Linked DNA regions of Homo sapiens: all the other regions are reported to be linked to region 1. Evidence: microRNA targets listed by miRTarBase, many of them from high-throughput screens and not tested one by one. Region 1 holds a microRNA gene; each other region holds the end of a gene's coding sequence.

Region 1 (5,148 bases):
GGCACTCCTATGAAATCCAGGGCACTGATTGAACACCACTGTCTTAGGCCTTATTTTCTCTAATTATAAACTGGGCACTGTGAGGCCTGCCCTGCCTGTCCTCAGAGTTGGTGCACAGTCATGTATCAGAGGGCAGCAGTGCTACAAGGAGCTTCCCTGCTCCCCTATACCCCATTACAGGAAGGAGAAAGAGGTAGTACATATTTCTGAGCTCTGCAGGCTGCCTTGTACCCAGTGTAACCTGATTTCTCTTCGATCTGGAACAAGACTGTTCTGGTTTTGCACTCAGCAAGGCACTGTTGTTTTGTTCGTTTGTTTTGAGTCAGAGTCTCGCTCTGTTGCCCAGGCTAAAGCGCACTGGCATGATCTCGGCTCACTACAACCTCTGCCTCCCGGGTTCAAGTGATTTCTGGCTAATTTTTGTATTTTTAGTAGAAACGGGGTTTCACCATGTTGGCCGGGTGGTCTCGAACTCCTGACTTCAAGTGATCTACCCGCCTCAGCCTCCCAAAGTCCTAGGATTACAGGCGTGAGCCACCACGCCCGGCCGAGCAAGGTACTGTTTTTGCACTCAGTGTCTGGTTCCTGTCACCTACTGGAGTAACTCTTTATTTGTTCAAGACTGTTTGGCCAGCCCTTGGCCTGGTCTCATGCTAAGTCATTTGGCCTATCCCCAAAGCCCTGCGTGTCCCCTATCCTGGGATGCCATACCACATTCTTATTTTCAACACCTTTAACACTTTAGTCCCAAGAAATAGGTAATAGTTTACTAAAATGCATACTCCTGCAAATGAGTAATTTGGTTAGGAGATTTAGATAAGATCAATTTACGATCCTACAAAATATCTGAGAGTAGGCAGTAAATGTGGCTGTAAGCTCAGCAGCCAAGGCAAAGAGGGAAATGCAAGCAGCTAGATTATTTCCAGTGTCCATAAGACTAAAAACATATTTTCTTATAAGAAGCAAAGCTTTTCTTGGAAGTTCCTAGGGCTGAAGGGAATTTCTTCTGCTGGGGACTCATAATAGGCATGATGTATATATCCCATGTGAACAAGCTTCTCAAGGGCCCTTGGCTACATAGTCAGGCCCTTAAATGTCCCTTGATGCAGGCTGATGGCAGAGACCAGAAGCACAGCTGGGTCAGGGCAGGACAAGGCAACACAAGGGAATGATTCTCTGATGTTTGGTTTGATTTAAGAATAAAATTTTGATGACTTAAAAACAGTGGGTGGCAAACATTTTTTGTAAAGAGCAAGATAGTAACGATTCGAGGCTTTGTGGGCCATAGGGTTTCTGTTTTAAGCACTCAGTTCTGCCTTTGAGGAGTAAAAGCAGCAATAGACAGCACATAAACAAATGGGCATGGCCGTGTTCTAATAAAGCTTTATTTGTAAAAGCAGGCTGTGGGCTGGATTTGGCCTGTGAACCATAGGTTGTAACCCAGGAGATAAAAGGACTATGCATCCTTGAGACAATCAACTGTGGGGGAAATATATCTCTTAACTTAGCTTGGAATAAGAAGAATCAAGTTAAATGCTTGAGCTGCTCTCTGGAGCAAGAATGCAGAGTACAGACATTCATTTTGTGTTCCTATCATCAGACAGATCTGTGTGCTTTGAAAATCTCCTAGTACATAGAGGTGGGATCCTGAAATAAGGAACAGAACATCCTGCCAGGGCTTGTGCCTGAGGAGAAAGCCACTTGGCAAACACCAGCAGGGTGGCATGAGATAGACCAATGCAGGCTGGGTGGGATCTGAAGGAAGGAGACAGGCACAGTTTAGCAGATGGGCCAGCACAGTGCAATAACGTTTATGTAGGCCAGTGGTTCTCACAGTCTAACCCCTGGACAAGCTGTGTCAGCATCACCTAGGAACTTTTTAGAAGTGCATATTCTCAAGCCCTGCCCCAGACCTATTAAATCCAGAGCTCCGAAATTAGGGCCCAACCATCCGCATTTTAACAAGCCCTCCAGGTGCTTCTAAAGCAAGCTCAGGTTTGAGAACTGCTGATGTCATCAGTCATAACTTCTGCGTTTCTCCTCTTGAGCAGGGAGAGAGCCAGAGGATTCTCCAAAGCCTGCACCCAAGCCTTCTCTGACCATCAGTTTCGCTCAGAAAGCCAAGCGCCAGAACAACACCTTCCCATTCTTTTCTGAAGGAATCACACGGAACCGAACTGCCCAGGAGAAAGTGGCAGCCTTGGAGCAACAGGTTCTGATGCTCACCAAGGAGTTAAAGTCTCAGAAGGTGAGGTCTGGTCCCAGGGAGGCCCCAGGTTCCAGTGGACCCCTCCAGTTCCTGGAGCCTTTCGGATAAGCTAGATGGGACGCATTAGCCGTGCTGGGCACCAGCTACTCTCTGGTCTTTAAAGGCCAAACTGCAGAATGTTGAAATATGCTGTTGATTACTCAAGAACCTGATGTCACTCAAAGTAAGTCACAAAAGGGCACCAAGGGCAGGTATCTCTGGAGATCTACTCTAATAACTGTCTCTTGGACCCCTCCTGGAGGGCCATGCATGGTCTCACCCCCTACCCAGAAAATGACATTATTTAGAGGCAGGTGATCTGGATGCAGGGTCATGGGAGGGGCTGTCGATAGAACTGGGGGGAACTTTGACCTGGCAGCCGATATCTGGGCACAGATATCTGAATGACCGTCACAAGACTGTCACAGGAGAAAGCAAACAAGCAGCATGTGTGTGGCCCAGGGCTAAGCCAGGACCAACACAGAAACAGTGAAAGGAATATTTGGGCTTAATATGGTAAGAAGTTAATTACGAGAGTTACAAGAGCTATATAATAATTGTAGAAAACAGATCTCATACACACAGACATTAAAACTACTCCAAAATCCTACATCCCAGAGAGTAAATGGTATTAAAAGCCAGGGGCTACCTTATGAAGTAGTGAGGGTCCCAGGGCAAAGATGTGAGAGGGCTGCAGCTCCGGGCGGGAGCCCCTCTTTAGAGTGATAAAAGCGACTAAGTTAGGCAGTTGTTACATAAATCCCAACGGTGGGGCCTGGTAGGACCTGTGGTGGCAGTGGCGGGCTCCAGTGAGGGCCCAGACTCCTTTTCCTCTAGAGGAAGGCCTAAGCTTTTGTGTTTGAACTTTGGCTGCCCGGAGGCCCTTTCTGCTTTGTTTTCCAGCCCTGACTCCAGAGGACTTAGGCTGGGGAGGTGGGGCTTATGCCCTATTACCTTCTGAATATTTCTTATAACTTGTACATTTCTTCTTTTCTTTTCTGCCCTATTTTGGTGGGAAGAAATCTAGAAAAAATGCTCTCCCTATACCTAGTTTGGCCCCTCGTCTGCCTTTTCTGCCCCTAAGCAGTGACCACTGTCAGCAGATCTCAGGGGAACCGGCAGAGGCTTCATTCCTGGCATGTCAGAAGTTACTTTTTTTTTTTTTTTTTTGAGACAGAGTCTCATTCTGTCACCCAGGCTGGAGTGCAGTGGTGCAGTCTTGGCTCACTGCAACCTCTGCCTCCCGGGTTCAAGCGATTCTCCTGCCTCAGCCTCCCAAGTAGCTGGGATTACAAGCACCTGCCACCATGCCCAGCTAATTTTTTTTTGTTTTTTGGTTTTTGTTTTTAGTATTTTTATTAGAGACTAGGTTTCACCATGTTGGCAAGGCTGGTTTCGAACTCCTGACCTCAAGTGATCTGCCCACCTCAGCCTCCCAAAGTGCTGGGATTACAGGCGTGAGCCACCGTGCCTGGCCAGGAGTTACATTTAGTGAAGCAACTGGTGATTAGACATTAGAGTTCTCAAAGGAGGGGGCTCATTTATTCATACGTTCTTAACTCATGTGTTTATTCACCAAATTTTTATTAAGGGCCTGTTATGTGCATGCAGTGTTCCAGGTGCTGGGAAAGAACAATGAGCAAAAGACACAGGCTCTGCCCTTACAGCTTGCATTTCATGGCAGAGACAGACATTAAACAAAGCAACACCCAAATGTGTAGTTATAACACGTGAGGTCCCCTCTGCTGCTGCTTAGCAGCCCAGCTGTCTTTTCCTCCTGTCATCATGGTGCTCCAGTTCTGAGGCTGCTGGACGCTCCTGAGAGCTGAGAGGGCATGAAACAGAGCCATAGCAGCTACTTGATCCCTGGACTAGTAGAGCTTAAATCCGAAACCCAAACCTGGAAAGAAAAAGAAATCCTGAATATACGGGCAGCCTCTCTTGACACAGCCTTTCTTTCTAAGACATTACAAATTGTCAGATGAAGTAGAAAGGCCCCAGGAAACCTAGATTTCATGAAAGTTTGCCCCTGATTGCTCTGCATCTCTGGAGGACTCATCATTCTTCAATAAATAAAGGCAAGATTCTTGGAGATTAATAAGGGTTGACCAGGCTATTGACAACTCCCATATATTCAGAGGGAAATTGTCAGGAGGAAGTTGTTGATGCATTGAAGAATCTGGATTTTTTTTCTACCAGGTAACCTTCCACCAAACCTCGACTTTGTGTCCTGGGACAGAGGGTCAAAAGGAGAATGAGTTGTGATTTATTTAGTTTATCCAATTATTGTGCAATAGGAGTGGATTTGTTTACTCTCCAACCCATTCCACAAATGAACTTCAGTCTTCAGGGTGATTCAAAGAACCAGCCTTTAAATAAGACAGCACAGGCTCAAATTCTGGCCCTAAGCAAGTTTCTTAACCTATCTAAGCCTCAGTTTCCTCTTCTGTAAATGGAGTTGCAGCCGTGTTTACTGGAGAGACCTGTGCCCAGATTCATAAAGCCCAGTACCTGGCACCCAGCAGCTGCCCAACAGATGCAGGCTCTGGTTGTTCTGGCGATTACTGCAGCCCTCCTTACCCTCCATGTCAATCTCTTCCTGCCCTACAAGCAGTGAGGTGCCCTGCTGAGGGGCTCAGAGACGAGGCGGGAAGTGAGAGCCCATCAGTGCCTTCAGGAAATGTGCCGTGGGGCCATAGCAGTGATCAGGGAGCTTAGGTCTTCATTCCACATTAGGAAGGGAGGAATGGCAGCCCCGTAACTCTAGGGTTTCACCTGTAGCCCAGATACTGAAACCAAAGAGGTGAGACAGAAAAAGCCAGCACAACTTCTGGGTGCCCAGTGGTGCCCCCAGGCACTCAGAATGCCGCTAGGAGAGCCGCTGTCCATCTGAGACCCTC
Region 2 (5,148 bases), not on the chromosome of region 1:
GCGTTCCAGTATAGCAGCCACGTCTCGCTGCAGGCTTCCAGTGGGCACATGTGGTGAGTGAGTGTGCACAGCAGTAGGGGCCACCCAGCTCCACAAACAGAAGCTGTAGGTCAGAAAAGTGAGAGCTTAGAGCTTGCCATTAACTCTGGGCCAAGTTACATTCTTAGAGGGAGCCTTATCTGCTATATTGTTGTGTGGGACTTGTCTGATTTTCTATTACCGCCTGTTTCCCAGTACCCTGTGATTTGTGGACTGAGGACTTAGGCTAAAGAGGTCTGGTGATTTGATGCTGCAGAATTGCTTGTATAGTTGGGTTTTTTCCCTTGGTGTTTCACTCCTTTACCTGAAAATGCAGTTGGCTAGCTTATGCAGTATGTATCTAAAGGCCAGAATCTGGACAGCTGTGTTTTCCTTTTTTCTTTTGTGAGATGGAGTTTCACTTATTGCCCAGGCTGGAGTGCAATGGCACAATCTTGGCTCACTGCAACCTCCGCCTCCCAGGTTCAAGCCATTCTCTTGCCTCAGCCTCCCGAGTAGCTGGGATTACAGGCATGCGCCACCACGCCCGGCTAATTTTGTATTTTTAGTGGAGACGGGGTTTCTCCATGTTGGTCAGGCTGGTCTCAAACTCCCCACCTCAGGTGACCTCAGGTGATCTGCTGGCATCAGCCTCCCAAAATGCTGGGATTTCAGGCGTGAGCCACTGCAGCTGTGTTTTTCTTTTCATGGATAACCATGAGGGGCTCTTGGGTCTCTGGACCAGTCATCCTGTCATGAGCTAGAGATAGAAGAGAGCTCAGGCTCACATGTCCTCTGTGGCTGGCAGCTGAGGGCATGGGGCCATCCAGATCCTTAGGAGGCCTCAGCCCTGGCTCCTTCTAAACCAGCTTCTTTCTGACTGTAGGGGCACGTTCCGCTTTGAAAGACCTGATGGCTCCCACTTTGATGTTCGGATTCCTCCCTTCTCCCTGGAAAGCAATAAAGATGAGAAGACACCACCCTCAGGCCTTCACTGGTAGGCCAGCTGAGGCCCCAAGTGCCCAGGCTTGGTCACCGGGAAGAACAACTCTCATCCCACAATTGCTGCAGAACTCTTCTCTCCCCATCATGGGCCACAGTGGGTCTCTTAATTTGATTGTGGGGTTCTTTTTGTGGGGAGGGGTGGTATAACTTTTCTTCAGAAGACCCATGTGGGACACCTCCAAGGCTGGCCTCCTCATAAGCCCTGCCTACACCATGTTCCAGTAAACCTCTCCACCAAGGAACTGTGTTCAGCTGCCACAGGCCTGGAGGAGTTTCCTGGCCTGTCACGTGAGGTTTGATCAGTAAACCAGTGCACGCTTGGCCACCCTTGCCATTTCTGCTCCCAGAGTCTCAGGCTCCCCTTCTGACCCAGTGTGCGCCCTTGACTGCTTTCTTTGCTGCCCTTCCAGGGAGCTGCCCCCCTGGTAGGGCATGTGCCTGTTTCCCTCTCAGCCTGGAGGCTGGCTGGACATCTCCTAGGGTCACTGTGCCTCTCAGCTAGTTGGCGGGGGTGCTGGACTGGACTCTTGTTCACTTTACCTTCTGCCAAATGCAGAGAGGGAGGCCAGTGTCAGGGTCGGAGTGGCCTGGCTCTTAGCACTGACCGACCATTGCCATTTCTGGCCTCGCTAGGCCCAGGAGAGGAGGGAGGCAAGCCAGTCGGGTTTCCTGGAGCAATGGGTGTGCCAGCCCTCAGCATGACTCTGCCAAGCATCCAGACCACAAATGCAGGAATTTGGCTGAGGAGCAGCTTTAGGTATGGATTGATGACTAAGTCAAGCTACTTCCTGAGCTTCTCTCAGATTTCCAAGAGCCAGAGATGAATTGTGCTGCATCTTGCCCCAATTCTTAGGATTTCTTTTCCTCCGCCACTGCAGTGATTGTTAGAGGTAGTTTTCTTGAATTAATATTAAATCACAGTTCCAGCCCTTGTTATTCTTGTCCTTAGTCCTCCAGGGGGAGCTGGGGTTGCAGGGCAACAGTACAGTCGCGCTTACGACCTGGCTAGAACACAAGGTCAGATGATAAACAGAAGCACAGGAACTCAGCCCATGGCCGCAAGCTGGTCAAGGCCTGCTCACTGTAAACATGGCTCTGTACCATTGAGTTTAACACAATTTTATTAGAAATTAGTGTTTGCTTCCATCACTTATGCTGAGCAACCAAATATTACAGTTATGTGATAAAGGAAAAATTCTTTCCTGCCCAGGACCTGCGCCATCCTTTAGGCCGACCTTGGTCACATACCAAATTCAATAAAACCCAATACTGGCCTGTGTTGTTAACAGCAGGCTGCCAGGTTTCTCAGAAACTGACAAGAAAATCTGACCTTCATCCATACTTTGTTTACTTACCCCTGGGCTGCTTGGAGTTGAAAAATGCACACAGCCAAGAGTTGCTTTCTGAATAGGGCTGGAAACTTTCAAAGAAAACCCCCAAACTTTTAAGTCACAAAGTCTGATTAAAGAAGCTAAGATCATGTCAGTGAGTTCAATGTTAGTATTTTCCTTAAGACCAAGGAGAGATTTTCAGTCAGAGAAGATAAATGCCCAGTCCCAGACTACTGTGCTTTCTCGGCAAAAAAGACTGAGACACTGAGGATGTGAATGTCAAAGTAGTAAGCAGGGACTAAAGGGGATGGGGAGGTCAAAAGGCAAGCATCACAACACCTCAGTGGGGAGCTGGGAATTTGAGTGTTAAAGGACCTCAAGAGGGCAGCTGAGAAAATAGGCCAGTGGTCTCAGGCTGACGCATTCCAGTCTCTGTGGGAAAGTCATAAAGCCAAAGCCTGAATTTGGCCAAAGAAGTGGATTTGTCTTTATCTTGTTACCTCAATGAGGGCTGGAAGAACTAGTAGCTGATCACCAAGGTACCTGACCTGAGAGTCTTAGTGCTGTTTATACATTCAAGACTGTGACTAACATAAAATGCCTAATTAGAAAGTCACATTTCCCCTGTCCCGCCGTCATGTCACTTCAGGTCCTTGTGTCTAACCCTGGGTCTGGCATTTGCCCATAGGCTCTGTGGCATCAGCTATCATAAGAGTAGTCAAGAGAGATGAACTTGATAACCTGTGTTCTCTCCAAAGAGCAGAAAGTGGGTACTATACGTGGCTACGTTGCTTTGTTAGGCTGGCAGAACAGTCCCTCCCTGACAGCATTCCTTTGGAAAATAATTCAGATAAGCTGAATTCTGGTTTGGCCAAGCCAAACAAAAAGGAATGAAAACCAAAGCCCTAAAGAGGAACTCACCTCCTGGCTAGTGCTTGGCATCTCCATGGCTGAGTTACCCAACAAGGAGTGAAGGCCTTCAGGGTGCTTCGGTTGCTCCTGTCATCCCGCGCTCAGAGACACCACTGGGCAGAACCGCCATCCCAGCCAGCACCAACCAAGAGCATAGATGGTGTGGGCAGGGAGTAGATGTGTGGCCAAGCATGTGCCACCTCTGTAGGGGCTGCTGGGAGTTTGCTGTCCTCAGCTGATGGGCATGCCAGCCAACACCATGCAGTGCCCACGGGCTCCACGGTCTTCCTGCCGTGGCTCATGTTTCTGGCCCATGTGACAGCTCTTTGGCTTTACCGTATGTGAGGACAGCATGGCTGGAAGCCAAGGGTACTCAAGAGAATCACAAAGAGCAGTCGTGCTAGACCTAGGAGTCAGTGATGTGACTATGATGTGGGGGTAAAATGTCCTTTCTCACAGGCACCCTGTGAGGACTGCCGGTCCCAGCTTAGCCATCCTTCCCTCCTCGGTGCACTCTGAGCTGCTGGCCAGGCTGCAAAGCCAGAGCTGCTCTGTCGGATGTTTTTTTTTTATTGCTTCCTCTTTATCCCCTCCCTCAGATTGATTCTGCAGGGAAGTGGGGATTAGGGTAGAAAGACATGGGTCAAGGAGATTATCAACCTCCTGAATAACAGTACAAAGTGCTTTAAAGAAACAGATCCCACAGGCATGGAGAAGGGCCAAGGGTTCTGTCATATGTAGGGTCTTGGCACCCTGGAGGGCAAAAGAAATGCTCAGTTTCCTCATTACTAGATTTAGAATTATTCATTTCCTAGATTATTTTTTAAAAACCAAACTTATCAAGCCTGTGCTTAAACACCTTAGGAAAAAAGACGTCCCACTTTCTGCACCAGGGCCTCTACAGCACCAGAACTGCCTTTCCCCCAGCTGAGGCCTAAGGGGCAGTAGCCTTCTGCACAGGGCCTAGGGGAAGGTTCTCAGCAGGAGGTGGGTCAGTCCATATGCCCCAGGGAGCAGAAGCAGCTCCGTCGGGCAGGAAGGGTGATGGTGAGCAGATAGGACAGGACGCAGTCTCCAGAAGTGCTCAGGGGCAAGGCAGGGGAATGTGGTCCCTCCTCTGCCCAGACCCTCTGACCTCTGAGCAGGGCCTGTCATGCCTCTGGGTGCTAGAGCAGAGACCCAGGCAGCAGCAGCATGGGGTGGCCAATGGGGCGGGTTCCACAGGATGGGAGATAGGGCCTCCCGTGCCCTGACTCCCTGAGGGTCTGGTCAGTCGCGATGGGTAGACTGGTGGCCGAGCTGCCGGTCATCGTAAGTGCTGTAGCGCTTGACGTGGATGCGGCGGACACGGTCCCGCAGTTCAAAGGTCTCCTCATCTTCACTGGGGGAAGCCTGGCTGCGGCTACGGCTTGTGGCCTCCAACAAGGAGTTGTCGGGGACGCGGGGAGTCTCATAGAGTAGGACGTTGAGTGTCTCCTCATAGATTCGGGCCTCTGGGAATTCCACCTGGGGTTAGGGAGGAAGAAGGTGGAGCAAGGTTTCATCTTCAAGAGGAAGCCATGCGTCAGAGCGGCTGGCCCTGAGGCTCCATAAGGCCTCCGCTACCTCTCATAAAACAGGTGGCGGTCCGTCTCCAGGGAAAGCCAGCCTCCCTCCGAAGGCGGGGTGAGGGGATGTACTCTACAGACATGAGGACAGGGAAGACCAACATCCTCCACACCCCTGCCCCAGCCTGAGACCAAGGGACTAGTGGGCATAGAGGGTGGGCCAGAGCTAGGTCCCAACACAGCTCTACCACTTGCTAGCTGTGGAGCCTTGGGCTGAACCCTTCTGGGCTGCAGCTCCCATATGTACAAAAGGTTGGTTCAGCTCAACCCCTGAG
Region 3 (5,148 bases), not on the chromosome of region 1:
ACCGGTTGCAAGTTCAAGTTCTTCTTTAGAAGAAACCCCTACTTCAGAAACAAGCTGATTGTCAAGGAATATGAGGTAAGATCCTCCGGCCGAGTGGTGTCTCTTTCTACTCCAATTATATGGCGCAGGGGGCATGAACCCCAGTCCTTCATTCGCAGAAACCAAGACCTCATCTGCAGCTTCTTCACTTGGTTTTCAGACCACAGCCTTCCAGAGTCCGACAAAATTGCTGAGATTATTAAAGAGGATCTGTGGCCAAATCCACTGCAATACTACCTGTTGCGTGAAGGAGTCCGTAGAGCCCGACGTCGCCCGCTAAGGGAGCCTGTAGAGATCCCCAGGCCCTTTGGGTTCCAGTCTGGTTAACATTTGCCCTTGGGAATACTCCTGCACAAGGTCTCCTACCACCTTCTGCTGGACCTGTGCTTGGGCATCAGCAATGAGTATGCCTTCTATTGTGCTTTGTTTTTGCTGACTTTTCTGCACCCTGTTTCCTTTGGATATTCAGTTCTCTCAACCTCAAGATTGAGACGGTGGTGGGTATGCTTCTCCACTTCCATATGACCTTCATGCTGTTCTGGAATATCACATGCTACGAGGTCATCCTTCACACTACTTGTAAGCCAAGCAAATGATACTGTAGATTGTACTGCCTTTATCTGCACTGCTTGGACCCTGTTTATTCCCAGGGCCTCTGAACTGGTTGCTGTCACTTGGATTTCTAGCTTTGGGAGCCTGTTCCACCTACTCAGCTCTGCATTGAGCAGTATGGGCACATGCCCTGTGGACAGTTACTGGACGTTAATGAACTCAGAGGAGAAAAGCAGTGAGCCACTTGTTCTGTGTGATTTATGGTACTTCATTGCTCTTCCTTCACCTCTAGTCACTTTCTATTGCTACCTGCCCTACATTGGCTCCTGCCAAGGTCCCTCTCTCTCCCTGTTTTCCTTTTTTTTTTTTTTTTTTTTTTTTTTGAGACGGAGGACGGAGTCTTGCTCTGTCGCCCAGGTTGGAGTGCAGTGGCGCGATCTCGGCTCACTGCAACCTCCACCTCCCGGGTTCAAGCGATTCTCCTGCCTCAGCCTCCCGAGTAGCTGGGACTACAGGCGCGCGCCGCCACGCCCGGCTAATTTTTATATTTTTAGTAGAGACGGGGTTTCACCATGCTGGCCAGGCTGGTCTCGAACCCCGATCTCGTGATCCGCCCTCCTTAGCCTCCCAATCCTCTCTTAAAAAAGTGATAGCTCAGAAACATTTGTAAAAGCAAGGTTTTTATTTCATTTTGGCTCTGTCATTTTCAGAGGCAAAGAAGTTGGCCTGTAAAATAGAGTGCTAGAGCTCTTACGCCCCTCCCCTTCTTCCCAACTTCCTACTTCCTAGCCCTTTTATCAACTCCTAGAATAGTTAAAGAGAGACACATCTAGATGGGATGAAAGGTGCCCTAAGCAGGAGAAACTGAACAAAAGGCTAGAGGCATGGGCCAGGTAAAAATTGGGCCTAGAGTGAAGACTGTGCTGTCGTTAAGAGCTTTCGAGGAAGGAGTACTTACTCCCCAATGATGATGAATGGAAAAATACTTTTCAGGGAGAATTGAAGGGGTTAAAGTGTTAAATATGTTGCCTAGACAAGGGTTCTTTAAAGAAAGACAGCGCAACTTTGAATGCTTTCTTACTTGTTTTGTGACCTAATTTATGTGGAAGATTGTTATTTCATTAGGATTTAGTAAAATTTTTTTTTCTGATTCTAAACTTATTGTGAAAATTGAGCTGTACAGATATTCTTTTGATTTCAATTGGGAACATTTGGAAGAACAACAGTCTTACTTGCCTGTACAATATAGAGACATATGAATAGTCATAACAGTTTTCAACTTGTTCTTGTTTCTGTTAAACTATATTCCTAGAAACATAGTTTGAACAACTTGGTCTTTGTTAGGCTTGTCAAATTGCCTTCATGGAAAAATAATCTACAAAAGTATGGTTTAATTGATTGTCTTACATGATAATTTTCCCTGGTAACAACTTAGTAAGTGATATATCTTTTTTCCTAAATTGCTTAAATACTGTGAAATTGCTCTGACAAATTGGAAGTGTACCATTGGCATATTTGTCTTCCTTTTTATGCATGATGGTAAAATAAAAGCATGTTGTTCTGCTAGATTTCTTATTTTTCACCTTACCCATAAATGTAATGCTTGAATGAAGTTGTTCATATTAATTAAAAATTATGGAATCATTAAAGTCCTTTAATCCATTAAAGTTCTTAATGGATTAAAATCATTAAAGTTCTTAATGGATTAAAATCATTAAAGTCCTTAAATTGATGTTAACTAAAAATTACAGAATCATTAAAGTCCTTAAATGGACACAATAGACATTATCCCAAAGAGAAGAAAGCAGGGCACGGTATGTTTGGTACCTTCCAAGGTAGTTTGCCTTAAAACGTTAGCAGTTGCAACTGCTTACTCAATCACTTTTTTCCATGTAGTTTATGCAGCACAACCTCCCCTTCAGTTGCTCAAATCCTCCATTTCTGTCTCCATAAATTATATTCTCAGGTTATTCAGGCTCTTCTTTTTATTAACTTGTATGCAGGGAGTACCTATCATATGTGATGTACTCCTCTATTTTCATACTTTCTCATCTGTAAAAACTTCCTTTTTTTCTTTAAACTTCCTCACTGTTCTCTTCTGTCAAATCCTTCAAGGCCTGCCCTTGGTAATTCCTCTGCCAAAGTCTTTCTGTTCCCCATAGAGGAGATAAATGTTTCTTTATGCACTTAGTGTACTTTGGAGGGACCTCTGTTCTAGAAAATTAACATAATTATTCATTACAGTGAATTCCACAAATAGAGAAAAAGAGTAAGAAGATAAAGTCCATTCCCTTCTTTGGGGAACTGGGGAAGGACTGATAAGCAAACAAAGAATTAACAGAGTGATACAGTAAAATAAAATACAGAGATTATATTTTCATGTTTTTCCCATGTTCACTCTTTTCCTCTCAGTAGTTTGGAAACTTTGTGAAAGTGGAGATGCAGTGCATTTTACATGGTTCATTGCATCTAGCATTTTTTTTTTTTTTTTTTGAGATAGAGTCCCACTCTTGCCCAGGCTGGAGCGCAAGTGGCGCGATCTCGGCTCACTGCAACTTCCGCCTCCCGGTTTCAAGCAGTTCTCCAGCATCAGCCTCCCGAGTAGCTGGGACTACAGGCACGTGCTACCACGCCCGGCTAATTTTTTGTATTTTTAGTAGAGATGGGGTTTCACCATGTTAGCCAGGATGGTCTCCATCTCCTGACCTCGTGATCAGCCCACCTCAGCCTCCCAAAGTGCTGGGATTACAGGCGTGAGCCACCGCACCCAGCCCATCTAGCATAATGTTTTGCATAGTTGTCAGCAGATAAATATTGAATGACAAAACTCAGATGGAGGAAAAAGAACAAAATAACCTAGTTCTCAGAAAGATTTAATGAGCAAATGGGAAAATGTCAAAAAGATTTGCAATGCCATTCCTAAATAACTATTTCCCCTTTTAGTCATTAGAAAACGTCTAAACACTTTCAACATTAAATCTTTCACTTGCATTTTAACAGAGCACTACTTAATTTTGGGTTACCTTTTATATACTTTGTACATTTTAAGGTGATTATACTGGAGATAGAAGGGGGTTAGACTCTAGATGTGTGTTGTCCAATACAGTAACTTTTAGCCACCAGTGGCTATTGAGCACTTGAAATGTGGCTAGTCTGAATTGAGATCTATAAATATAAAATTCACACTGGATTTTGAAGACTCAGTATGGAAAGAAAAATGTTAAAATATCTCAATTTTTTTCATATTGATTGCATGTTGAAATATTTTTGACATTGTGTTAAAATATATTGAAAAATTAATTATCCTCATTTTGCCATTGTTTAATGTGGCTACTAGTAAATCTAAAATTACATAGGACAGCATGTCTCGACTTCCTGAGGAATATCTGAAAGCATATAAAATATCTGTAAAAATTAAACATGTTAATACTTTCTCCTCCTGAAGCTTCTTGTGACTAAGATAAGGGTTATCTTGCTTAAATTCAAGGCCAATGGGTAAAAAGAAGGTGAGTAAAATTTCTTTAATGAACTGTTCTTGAGTACTTAAGATGCACTGAATATTTTGCAAAATGTACTGTGCAACACTTTCTTGATATAGGCAGGGTAGATTTTGATGCCAAATTGACACAGTTATATTGGTTTAATTTTTAGTGACTTTTAAGACCAATATATGCATATTTTCTAAAGTAAAATGCTCTTTTTTTTTTTTTTGAGACAGAGTTTTGCTCTTGTTGCTCAGGCTGGAGTGCAATGGCACCATCTCGGCTCATGGCAAGCTTCCGCTCACCGCAACCTCTGCCTCCTGGGTTCAAGCGATTCTCCTGCCTCAGCCTCCCCAGTAGCTGGGATTATAGGCATGCGCCACCACGCCCGGCTAATTTTGTGTTTTTGGTAGAGAGATGGGGTTTCTCCATGTTGGTCACGCTGGTCTCAAACTCCCGACCTCAGGCGATGTGCCTGCCTCGGCCTCCCAAAATGCTGGGATTACAGGCGTGAGCCACTGTGCCCGGCCAAATGCTCTATTTTTAGTTTACAAATGTACATGATGTTCAGAAAATATTTTCAGTCGTATTTTAACAGTTGGCTAGCAACAGAAAAGGAAAATATCTGAGTCTAGCTCTGCATTAAGTCAGTTCAATGAACGCGTACTACTTGAAAAAGCAGCCGGGCAGGGTGGCTCACGCCTGAAATCCCAGCACTTTGGGAGGCCGAGGCGGCTGGATCACCTGAGGTCAGGAGTTCGAGACCAGCCTGGCCAACATGGTGAAACCCCGTCTCTACTAAAATTACAAAAATTAGCTGGGTGTGGTGGCAGGCGCCTGTAATTCCAGCTACTCGGGAGGCTGAGGCAGGAGAATCGCTTGAACCCAAGAGGTGGAGGCTGCAGTGAGCCAAGATTGAGCCATGGCACTCCAGCCTGGGGACAAGAGAGACTTCGTCTCAAAAAAAAAAAAAAACAAAAAAACATACTTTTTGAAAATTAGTGGTCTGTAATTGTAATCTTGCAGTAGTTGTTTATTGAATACTAGCATAAGTAAGGATTGAATGGGATAGTAA
Region 4 (5,122 bases), not on the chromosome of region 1:
AGCGTTCAAGCCTCACTAAACATCTGGTAATTCATACTGGAGAGAACCCTTACCACTGTAATGAATTTGGTGAGGCTTTTATCCAAAGTTCAAAACTTGCAAGATATCACAGAAATCCTACTGGGGAGAAACCACACAAATGTAGTGAATGTGGTAGAACTTTTAGTCATAAAACAAGTCTGGTGTACCATCAGAGAAGACATACTGGAGAGATGCCATACAAATGTATTGAATGTGGGAAAGTCTTTAACTCCACTACAACCCTGGCAAGGCATCGGAGAATTCATACTGGAGAGAAACCTTACAAATGTAATGAATGTGGCAAGGTCTTCCGTTATCGCTCAGGCCTCGCACGTCATTGGAGTATTCATACTGGAGAGAAACCTTACAAATGTAATGAGTGTGGCAAAGCCTTTAGAGTACGTTCAATTCTGCTTAATCATCAGATGATGCATACTGGAGAGAAACCTTATAAATGTAATGAATGTGGTAAAGCTTTTATCGAAAGGTCAAACTTGGTTTACCATCAGAGAAACCATACTGGAGAGAAGCCATACAAATGTATGGAATGTGGCAAGGCGTTTGGGCGGCGGTCTTGCCTCACTAAACACCAACGAATTCATTCTAGTGAAAAACCTTATAAATGTAATGAGTGTGGCAAATCTTACATTAGTCGCTCAGGCCTCACTAAACATCAGATAAAACATGCTGGAGAGAACCTTACAACTAAACTCAATGTGGAAAGGCCGTTAGATGTTGTCCTAACCTCTGGGATCCCCAAATAATTTATACTTACTCATATAGCTTGTATATTTGTCCTTTCCCTTTGAAGTCTCATGTGGAATTGTAGTAATCTCCAGTATTGGAGGTGGAGCCTAGTGGGAGGTGATTGGATGATGGGGGTGGCTTTCTCAAGAAAGTTTTAGTACCATCCCCTTGTTGCTGTCCTTGTGATAGTTCTCATGAGGTCTGGCTCATGCCTGTAATCCCAGCACTTTGGGAGGCTGAGGTGGGCGGATCACTTGAGGTCAGGAGTTCAAGAGCAGCCTGGCCAACATGGTGAAACCCTGTTTCTGCCAAAAATACAAAAATTAGCTGGGCTTCGTGGCGGGTACTGGTAGTACCAGCTACTCGAGAGGCTGAGTCAGGAGAATTGCTTGAACCCTGGAGGCGGAGGTTGCAGTGAGCCGAGATCGCGCCACTGCACTCTAGCCTGGGTGACAGAGTGAGACTCCATCACGCACACGCACGCACGAAAGTGAATGGCACCTCCCTCTTGTTTGTTCTTCTGGCCATGTGACATGCCCTTCACCTCCCACCATCATTTTAACCTTCCTCAGGTTTCCCGAGAGGGTGAACAGACGTCAGCGCCATGTTTCCTATAAAGCCTGCAAAATTGTGAGTCAATTAAACCTCTTTATACATTACCTAGCCTCAGGTATTTCTGTCTAGCCATGCAATTATGGCCTAATATATTTACACATGGAGTGAATATAGCTAAGTTTTTTTTTTTTTTTTTTTTTTTTTTTTTTTTTTTTGGAGACGGAGTCTCGCTCTGTCGCCCAGGCGGGACTGCGGACTGCAGTGGCGCAATCTCGGCTCACTGCAAGCTCTGCTTCCTGGGTTCACGCCATTCTCCTGCCTCAGCCTCCCGAGTAGCTGGGACTACAGGCGCTCGCCACCGCGCCCGGCTAATTTTTTTTGTATTTTTAGTAGAGACGGGGTTTCACCTTGTTAGCCAGGATGGTCTCGATCTCCTGACCTCATGATCCACCCGCCTCGGCCTCCCAAAGTGCTGGGATTACAGGCGTGAGCCACTGCGCCCGGCCAGAATATAGCTAAGTTTTAAGCAAGTGTTCACTAGGCATAAGAATATACATCCTGGAGAGAAATCACAGAAGTGTAGTATATGTGGCAAGAATACTACTTAAAGGTCAAAACTTGTGGATCTATAACTCAAAGTGCAGATATGCTTTACAAATGAAATGAGGGTGGCAGAAGCTTCACCAGAGTTCAGTCACTACTTGAGAGTTTATATTGGAAAGAAATCGTATAAATGTATGTGCTAGAGGCTTCCCCGAGGTGTCTGAACTCACTAGACCTCAGAATATACATCTTTGACAAATGTAATGTGTGTGCTAAGACTTTTTACCCGAACATCCAAATGGAAACATCAGAGTATTCATACTGGAGAACAGTCTTACAAATGTAACGAATGTGGTAAGCCTTTTTAAAAATCAAATGGGCTGGGTATGGTGGCTCACACCTGTAATCCCAGCACTTTGGGAGGCCGAGGTGGGTGGATCATCTGATGTCAGGAGTTTGAGACCGGCCTGGCCAGCATGGTGAAACCCCATCTCTACTAAAAAATACAAAAATTAGCTGGGCAGTGGTGGGCACCTGTAATCCCGCTACTTGGGAGGCTGAGGCAGAAGAATCACTTGAATCCAGGATGTGGAGGTTGCTGTAAGCCGAGATTGCGCCATTGTACTCCAGCCTGGGTGACAAGAGTGAGACTCTGTCTCAAAAAAATAAAAAAATCAAATGTTCATGTTTTTGGAGTTTGAGAGAATTTATACAGGAAAAAAGTCATATCAGTGTGCTTAACATGGAAGGACCTTTAATCAGTAGTGTGTCTTCAGGCTTTACCAAATTATTCATACTGGATAGAAACCTTGCAAATGTAATTAACGTGGTAAAATTTTAAACCATTTCTCAGCCAGATGCGGTGGCTCACGCCTGTAATCCCAGCACTTTGGGAGGCCGAGGCAGGCAGATCACGAGGTCAGGAAATCGAGACCATCCTGGCTAACACGGTGAAACCCCGTCTCTACTAAAAATACAAATAATTAGCCAGGCGTGGTGGCACGTGCCTGCAGTCCCAGCTACTTAGGAGGCTGAGGCATGAGAATTGTTTGAACCCGGGAGGCTGAGCTTGCAGTGAGCCGAGATTGCACCACTGCACTCCAGCCTGGGCGACAGAGCAAGACTCCGTCTCAAAAAAAAAAAAAAAAAAAAAATTTCTCAACAGATTCCATGTTAGGTAAATCATACTATGGATAACTAAGTCTGCTTCTCCATCCAGGATTGACCTGGAATGATACATACGGTAAAATAACCACAAGACAAAATTTGTTAAAACCCCAGGTAATATGTACATCAAAGGATCAAGAGCGTGTGTGGAAATGGCCAATTCAGTATATAAAATAATTGTATTCACTTTGACATTTCTTAAAAAGGCTAGTTGACTATTTGTGACCTTCATCCTAAAGTATGAAGTCTTGCCTTTCCTACACATCTTTCATTGTGGTCTCTGGGAATAAATCAGTAAGGTGAGAGGGCCTGCTTCATTAGGTGTGGTTCCTTCATATCCATGTTTTCTGGAAGATTAAGGTCACTGTACTGTGTGAGTTAAGCAGCATGGAATATGGTGGAGAATGATGTAAATTTACAATGTAAGTCACTGAGCTTGTTGTGTTCAGAGTGTCCTTTGACAAATACAGTGTTGCTTTGGGATATGGGAAACATACGGAGTATGTTTCACTAACCTAAAAATCTGTGCTCCACCTAGATTTGTACATTCTTTTCACTTCTGTCACTTGTTGCTTCACATGTTTTGCAGCTGGTTTTAAGTGCATACAGACAAGATTCTCAAATCATCTTTGTAAATTGACATTATTATCATGTCACCACCCTGTTGCCCAGGCTGGAGTGCAATAGTAATAAGGTCAACTTTTGGAACCCTTCTGCAAATTTCCTAGGATTTTTAGAGTAGCTTCCTAGCTTTTCCTTACATTGCTGTATATCAGTTATAGAGAAGGGGACCTGCAATAGGACTGGCCATTCGGCTCCTGCTGCTTCCCTACGGGGTAGCAAGGCTGGAGGGAGAGTAGAATATGGTGTTCCCCACTGAGTGTTTGGGGGACTTAGTAGGGTCCCCAGTGTTTGCTCCTGGTTTTAGCCTCAGGAGCACTTGGTAAGGGGGCTATAGGGATGGTCGCTCTTCACCCTTAGAGACAAGTGGCTCTTGTAAAAGGGGGTCATCTGGTTTGGCACGGTGGCTCACGCCTGTAATCCCAGCACTTTGGGAGGCCGAGCTGGGCAGATCACCTGAGGTCGGGAGTTCGAGACCAGCCTGACCAACATGGAGAAACCCCGTCTCTACTAAAAATACAAAATTAGATGGGCATGGTGGTGTGTGCCTGTAATCCCAGCCACCTGGGAGGCTGAGGCAGGAGAATTGCTTGAACCTGGGAGGTGGAGGTTGCAGTGAGCGGAGATCAAGCCATTGCACTCCAGCCTGGGCGATGAGAGCAAAACTCTGTCTCAAAAAAGAAAAAGTAAGAGTGGGGGGGATCATCTATAATATCTAATTCTACCTTAGAACTTTCCTTTGGTGGTGGGGGTGGGTTCTGGGAGTTTGACAGATTGCTAGGTTTTGGTATAAGGTCATAAAATCCTGTGCATATGGGATTTCTGACCATTTGCCCTGCCTCTTGCAAAATAGGTCTAATGGCAGGATGGTGTCATAATTAAGGCTACCAAGACTGCCCATTGTTCCAGGCTGGGCAGTTCATAATGGGGGCAGACAATAGTGCAAAAAAAATTTTACATTTTATCTTTAGAGTGTCAGGGTCAAATTGATTTCCATGGTTGAGGATGTAGCCAAGTGTGGAATCAGGTGGAATAGGTGGAGAGTTGCCCATAGTGGTTTGGAAAAGAGAAGAGGACTTTGAAAAGTGGAGGGCTCATTAGGTGACCCAAATTTTACCTGGGGCATCCCCCCTTTAGGGCCCCAACTTAGTCTGTCAGACATCTCTGACCTTAGATGGGTGCTGGCACCACTTTGGAATGGTTCCCTCCATCACTGAGGACCTGACTTAAAGTTTTTCTATCTCACTTAAAACAACCCTTTAACGCTCTCAACTTAGGCAATAATAAATTCCTTTTCATGAATTCCCTCCACCACCATGCACCACACAGACCACATGCCCGGACCCTCTGACTTGTGTAACCTTTTGTGCATAGCTAGGTGGGTTTTCTGTCCTTTGCCAGTTGGGTGGGAGAAGGGAAGAATTTAGCATAAATAAAAGCAGCATAAGTCACCTGAAACCTGTGAGTT

Evidence for each region. Region 1 holds the annotated microRNA hsa-miR-6854-5p (AAGCUCAGGUUUGAGAACUGCUGA, at 1,988-2,011, shown strand). A microRNA usually pairs through its seed, bases 2 to 8, with sites in the 3' UTR of a target mRNA and lowers its output. Matches are read on the target gene's strand: a 7mer-m8 pairs with bases 2 to 8, a 7mer-A1 pairs with bases 2 to 7 and ends in A, and an 8mer does both.
Region 2: miRTarBase lists POLDIP2 as a target of hsa-miR-6854-5p. Seed matches in the 3' UTR shown: 7mer-m8 at 1,812-1,818.
Region 3: miRTarBase lists TSPYL1 as a target of hsa-miR-6854-5p. The part of its 3' UTR that is shown has no 7-base or 8-base seed match.
Region 4: the mRNA of ZNF841 is a reported target of hsa-miR-6854-5p. The part of its 3' UTR that is shown has no 7-base or 8-base seed match.

The regions. Positions count from the first base shown.
Region 1 is chr9:98,226,052-98,231,199 of GRCh38, reverse strand. MIR6854 (microRNA 6854) reads left to right here and starts at 1,983; the gene lies at 1,983-2,051. TBC1D2 (TBC1 domain family member 2) reads left to right here. Exons shown (of 13, transcript NM_001267571.2): 5 at 2,052-2,248.
Region 2 is chr17:28,343,988-28,349,135 of GRCh38, reverse strand. It overlaps POLDIP2 (DNA polymerase delta interacting protein 2), which reads left to right. Exons shown (of 11, transcript NM_015584.5): 10 at 1-53; 11 at 905-2,503. The coding sequence ends at 1,019. TNFAIP1 (TNF alpha induced protein 1) reads right to left here. Exons shown (of 7, transcript NM_021137.5): 7 at 2,127-4,772. The coding sequence ends at 4,536. It overlaps LOC124903963 (a long non-coding RNA gene), which reads right to left and starts at 906. Exons shown (of 2, transcript XR_007065687.1): 1 at 807-906; 2 at 1-103. RefSeq lists enhancers at 3,438-3,941, 4,445-4,948.
Region 3 is chr6:116,273,735-116,278,882 of GRCh38, reverse strand. TSPYL1 (TSPY like 1) reads left to right here. Exons shown (of 1, transcript NM_003309.4): 1 at 1-4,025. The coding sequence ends at 366. It also overlaps a transcript of DSE not described here. Among named protein-coding and RNA genes, the nearest start is that of TSPYL1, 3.6 kb to the left of the region's middle.
Region 4 is chr19:52,060,770-52,065,891 of GRCh38, reverse strand. ZNF841 (zinc finger protein 841) reads left to right here. Exons shown (of 7, transcript NM_001136499.2): 7 at 1-1,427. The coding sequence ends at 785. It also overlaps the pseudogene LOC100419835. Among named protein-coding and RNA genes, the nearest start is that of ZNF432, 14 kb to the right of the region's middle. RefSeq lists an enhancer at 1-878.